Linked DNA regions of Homo sapiens: region 1 is linked to region 2. The links come from fine-mapping of genetic effects on gene expression. A gene starts in region 2. The other region holds a variant in brackets. All regions are shown on one strand. Distances are between the middles of the regions. Region 1 overlaps LIPC (lipase C, hepatic type). Region 2 holds the start of ALDH1A2 (aldehyde dehydrogenase 1 family member A2).

The links.
Region 1: its variant is fine-mapped to the expression of ALDH1A2 in whole blood (INTERVAL, PIP 0.91).

Annotation. Positions count from the first base shown.
Region 1 is chr15:58,507,525-58,510,435 of GRCh38, forward strand. All of the region lies in intron 1 of LIPC (lipase C, hepatic type), which reads left to right. Among named protein-coding and RNA genes, the nearest start is that of LIPC-AS1, 10 kb to the left of the region's middle. The variant TTG/T (reference allele first, on the strand shown) is at 1,208.
Region 2 is chr15:58,064,242-58,067,152 of GRCh38, forward strand. ALDH1A2 (aldehyde dehydrogenase 1 family member A2) reads right to left here and starts at 1,470. Exons shown (of 13, transcript NM_003888.4): 1 at 1,293-1,470. The coding sequence starts at 1,409. It overlaps ALDH1A2-AS1 (ALDH1A2 antisense RNA 1), which reads left to right and starts at 984. Exons shown (of 3, transcript NR_147215.1): 1 at 984-1,501; 2 at 2,574-2,693. RefSeq lists enhancers at 488-1,007, 1,008-1,527 and a silencer at 2,136-2,325.

The sequences.
Region 1 (2,911 bases), 440 kb after region 2:
ATCAGTACTTGCCTTACTTTGGAAAACGAAAAGAGCTCACTAAAGTGGTCCCTCTTATAATAAGGTGAGAGTGGCCTCTAGGACAAATTTCAGCTTGTACAATTCTGGAATACAGAAAGGGTAGCTGGCTAGCGACCTTTTTCCATACTCCACCAGGCACTGTGTAGAGGCTAAGGGAAAGCTTCCCCTTTGCCCTCTGAAAGCTCACTGAAAACTCACAGAAGACAGATTAGTAGAAGAAAAGGCATACGAATTTATTTTAACATGTCTAGCACTGGAGGATCCATAGAGAACAATTACCCATTAACCCTTCTTCATAGGGGAAGGGGAGATGGGGGAAATGTGGCAATTTGAGGGATGGTAAATGATTTTTAGGGGGAGACGAGTGGACTTGGGGAACTTACAATGGCCATGGACGAAGTCTGTTGGGACTTCAGAGCAGACAAGGGCTGGTAAATGATTCTCTTTGAAATACTGAATGAGCACCAAAACAGAAGACGATGGTTTGTGACAAAATACTGTCCAGGTGTGTTGACAGACTTCAGTCTTTCTTCCTGTGATATGGGTTCAGTTGATGAAAACTCAGGGAGGAGACTAGAGGTAATTGCTTTCTTCCTTGGTATTTCCAGACTTTAGGCAGATAAGGGATGAAGAGAACAACTTCATCCAGAGCTTTGGGAGAGATGAAGAATTGAGAGATGGGGTAGGGCCAAGGGTGGGGGGTAGGGAGTGAAGATCAGAGAGACCCTGAGGCTCTTCTTATTTCAGCATGTCAAAGCACCATATTTTGGGGTAACAGTTGCTGAGCCCCAACAACTGCCACCCCATAGTCAAATTAAGCCGATCATCCCCAAAGCAATATTAGTCCAGTCCAGTTCCTCTCATGACAAATGACCTGAACACAGGATTCAGCGAGTCTTACTCGCTGTGGTCATTTTGGAGGTAGGGAGATCATTAACCCACATACTTTGATAAAATACGAAACGCCTTTCCTAGCTGGTTCTTTTCCTCTCCTATAGGCCGACCCCCCTCCATCCCTTTATTAGTATTGAACTGAACAAATTAGTTAATATGGGAACATTTGGATGTATCAACTTTGCTCTGAAACAAAAATGTATTCATCCCCAAACTCTATGCTGGGGGCTGAGGGAGAGTCCTTACGACTGACATAGTCCCCAACAAGGTTCTCATTAGTCCCAGTTTTTTT[TTG/T]GACACCTTTTCCTCCGCATTCACATCCTTCTGCCCTCTCCAGCACTGTGCAGGAAGAACCAACCAACCTGACCTTGGTGAAAGGGCTGTGGGTTTTTCAACCCTTCATTCCTGCTACTTTTTTTTTTTAATTTTTTAGTATTCTTCTGTGCATCCTTTCTTCTCTCCTAGGCTTCTCACCCAGCCTCTCTGTTGAGTACTACTTGTAGGCAGAGCTCCCTCATTCACAACATCCCAATGTATTTGTCCTGTATCAAAGCAAACCTTATACAGTAGCTCTTTTAAGAACTGCTAAAGGAATGAAGGAACAAAACTGAGCCAAATAAAGCAAAATGAAGAGGATATGTATGCAGGCAATTGTGGGAACATATCACCAGAATCCTCTCTTGTTATTGTACCCAAATCCACACATTCTCCTCAGTGTTGTCTGGGAAATACATCAATCCACTGTGAATGGTTTAGATAGAATAGAATCCATCAATGTCACCAGCTTGATTCCTCCTCAGATGATGAGCCACTTTCTCCACTCCACCTCCAGGGCTGGCCCCAGTCTTCCTAAATGTTCATTAACTCCTATTAGGTATTCCGAAACTCTCAGGTTTTCTGAGTCAGCATAGAATGGTTGGAAAAGCAATTGCTGTAGAATCAAGAAGACTGAAATTGGAATACTGGAGCAACTACCTACTAGCCACAGGCAGGTTACTCTCTCTGAGTCTCAGGTTCCCCATTTGCAAAATGAAGCAAAGCTATCTACTCCAAGGATTGCTGTGAAGATTAAAAGACCACGTGCTAACCTAATAGGTGTTCAGTAAATAAATATAATTTTCTATTTTTCCCTGCAAAATTCATTTCCCAAACACAATCTTTATTCTTTTTTTTAACATATAATAGCCATACTATGGCTTACCAACTCCCCAGTAAGCCAGGACTCTCTGTATACGCAGTGTTTTGCCACATCATTTACATGGATGAAATTGTTTCCTATACTCCCAAATTTACCCTGCTTGGTGACCAAGAATCACTTCTGTCCCTATTACTAGTGATATCATGTCTGCATTTAGAAACAGACAAGTGTTATACAAAATTACATAATATGATAGGAATGCTGTCAATGGATATCTATTATTATATTTACCAGTCAAAATTTTAGTTGTTATAACTGGTATCACCAATTAAAAAATTTTATAAGAAAGGGGTTTTTGTACCATTGGATCTATTGAATCATTAAAAAAAAAAAGAGTTTAGAAAAAGAAGAAGCTATTTATATACTATTTCATTCCATAAGACTTTATCCAGTTCCACTGTTAATAAAATGTACATGCGCAGAATTGTATTGTTTTCTCCATTACTAAACATGTATTTGCTGAGTACCTTCTGAATGCCAACATGGTGCTAGGTACTGGGCATAGGGTGGAAGACACAATAGACAAGGACACAGCTCCCTGGTATGGGAAACAGATACTTTATGTCTTCAGTTGTAAGGTCCACTGTTGTTCCTATTTAATATCTTTGAATGTGGAATATATCTTACAATGCTGTGGGCTAGGGCATGGTTGTGACATTGATAAAAAGGGCTCTTAACTGCCATCGCTTCAGTTGACTTGCTTGCCTTTTTGAGTGGCAGTGCATGGCTTGAGCTTAATTTCCATTCAGAAGGTTTTTGAAAAGACTAACTCATTATTTGCACATAAAAAGGCACAGA
Region 2 (2,911 bases):
AAACAATGCCTAAAAGGTTATAACCATTAACGACCTCTCATTAAAACGGCTTTGAAAAATTTGTCACACCATCTAAAAAAGCTAGCAGGTACATTAAATCCATCTAAATCGACATTCAAAACACAAATCGCCCTGATTTGTAACCTAAAACTCAATGCAAGTAAAATCTCAATATTCTGATGTTGTTTCTTGTATATCTCATTCAACCACTAAGCCAGATGCAAACAATTTACTTCTCTACAAAATTTATCTTGTAAAAAAGCACGATGGAATACATCTTTAATCAACCTTTAACCATATGCATGTGCGTCTATGCGTTTGCGTTAATTGGGAGAAGTTGAGTGTAGAAATGTACCGAAAGGACTAGAAAATCAAACCAGAGAACTACAAAATGAACTCCAAGAAACGTGGTTTTCAATCCCATCTCTCTCTCACCACCTCCCTCAAAATGTTGTAACATTACAATACCCCTACGTTTGTAATCGATCATTTTTTTTCTATGTCGAATTTGTGGAAAGTAAATTCATTTTATATTAGGTAGCAGACGCATATTCTTTTTTAGGCGATGCAACAACAAAAATCCTGCTTAGCAAACCCAAGATGTCAACGTTCGTTATAAAAAAAAAAAAGTAAGTTCTTCAGTTCAAAACCGAACATGCTAACAAATATTAAAACTTTTTAAGTTTCCCAGGGAAACTGCCGCTGCCTACAAAATTCACATGAAACGCTGACGTTGGAGTTACTGTACTTATCAGTCAGGTTTCCGTGAAATTTGTCAAACCGGCCAGAGCGCTGGTGTCTTGACAATTCCTTACGGGAAAGCCCCTCAGCACCCTCCGGGCTGTGGAGGACCTGATTGGGACCAACAGCCGAGGGGCCCGGAAGGCGGAGGACCGAGAGGCGACGGCCAGGCTGCGTGGCCAAGCTGACGGGGAACCCCGGCCTCCATCTGAGGATACTAAGCGGTTCCGACGCCTTCCCCCGCGGCAGTCGGGACCGGGAGAATCGGACAGAAACCAGCCTCAGAGTCCGGGGCAGGAGCCGTTGACGGCTGCCCCTCAACGCTGCGCTTCGGGTTGGGTTAAGTCCCCAAGGCGTCCTCAGACCACGGCGGGGCTTCAAACGCCCCAGTCCCGAAGACAGGCAGGGGGTCCCTCTGCTGCGCCGGGATGACAGGCTGGCCCCGACGACCCCGGCCCCGTCCCGCAGCCCTCACCCGCTGAAGAGATCGGGGAAACCGAAGAAGGTTCTAGAAAGTCTCCGTGGACGACGGGCGCTGGGCGGCCGCTTACCTTGGTGTACTTAATTTCGAGATTGGGCGTGGGCGACGGCAGGAGGTGCAGCGACGCCATGAGGGCGGCGGGGTCGGCCTTCACCTCGCCGGGCATCTCTATCTTGCTGGAAGTCATGGTGGCGGGCCGGGTGTCCCTAGCCCGCGGCGTGGGGCAGTGCGGGCTGTGCGCGCGGTCCGCGGCCCGGGGGCGCGCTCGCCTGTATATAGGCAGGTGTCAAGCTGGGGCTCTTCTTATTGGACGTGAGGGCCGAGGCGCGGGGGGCTGGTCCATCCTACCTAGGACGCCCGGCGCAGCCTCCATTTACATAAAGCCCGCGCCGCGCGGCCGGGACGCTTGGCGCCCACGGTCAAGTCCGCCCGGCGCTCCCGCCCCCCGGCCGCGGAGACCAGCCCACGCCGCCTCCACAGTCCTCGACGGTGGGAGCGGAACTTGCGCCGCGGCCCGCGGGCCTCGGCCAGCCGGACTTGGTCTCCGGGTCCCTGGGTCAGAGTCGGCGGGAGGCGCACAGCGGCCGAAGTCGAGCGAGGGTCGTGGCCCCCGGAAGCGGAGCTGGCAGGGGCTGGCGGGGACCGGAGCGGCCCGGTGCTGCTTCGGAGTAGAGAAAGGCCAGGAAAGTCCAGGCTGCGGAGGGCGGCTCCCAGCTCGCCCACGTTCCCTCCCATCCCCGTCCCAGGACCCACCGAACCCCGTCCCCCTTCCTTTCCGGAGACCCGGGAGGGCGTCCTCCGTTCTCCTCCTCCGGGCAGGGGCGCCAGGCTCTCGGCAGCTACGCCCTCTCCCCCGACCCCCCGACTCCCCTCAGCCGGGCCGAGGTGCATGGTGGCCAGAGGGTCAGGGAGAGGTGGCAGTGGGTGCGAGTCCCCCTCGCCTCGGGCTCAGAATGAGGATCCCTGCGAGCGGGTCAGCGCGGGGCGGCCCTTGCCAGGCGTCGCCCGCCCAGTTGCTGCCCTCTGCCGGCCGGGACCGCCCGGGCGGCTTGCGCTGTGGCGGGAGGATATGGGCAGTGATCATCCCCGGCTCCTCCGAGGAGCTGCATGCTTCGTGGGCTCCTTTAGTTCTTCTCGGATCCCCTCTTCCGGCTGTTTCCCCTCCTCACCCAGCACACCCACAGAAACACTATTTTGTTTTTCTGTTGTTCCTTACACGCTAAGAGCTATCGTCCCGCCAGACCTTAGGCTCATTTTACTGTCCCTTTGGGATTGAGTTTCCATCTCCCCCCTAATCTAAGTGTTTCCAAAGTCTAACAAGCTGCCCTCTAGTCTGTGGATCGGCCTGCAGGTGTAAACCAAGAACCTAGAGACCCTGCCTCAGAATGGGCTTTGGACTCCGTGGACTAAATCAAGGCCGCATGGAAAGACCTGCATAAGTCCCTTCCCTTCCTTACTCCTCACTCCAAATGTAAGCTTGACAGGGGCCTACAGTGTTGATAAACGCTTTTTCTACACTACCAAGCAACACTGTGATTCTCGTCTTTTTGTTTTGTTTGAAGAGACAGGGTCTCACTCCTTCACTCAGGCTGGAATGCAGTGGCACCGTGACAGCTCACTGTGATCTTGAACTGGGCTCAAGTGACCCTACCACCTCAGCCTCCCAAAGTGCTAGGATTATAGGCATGA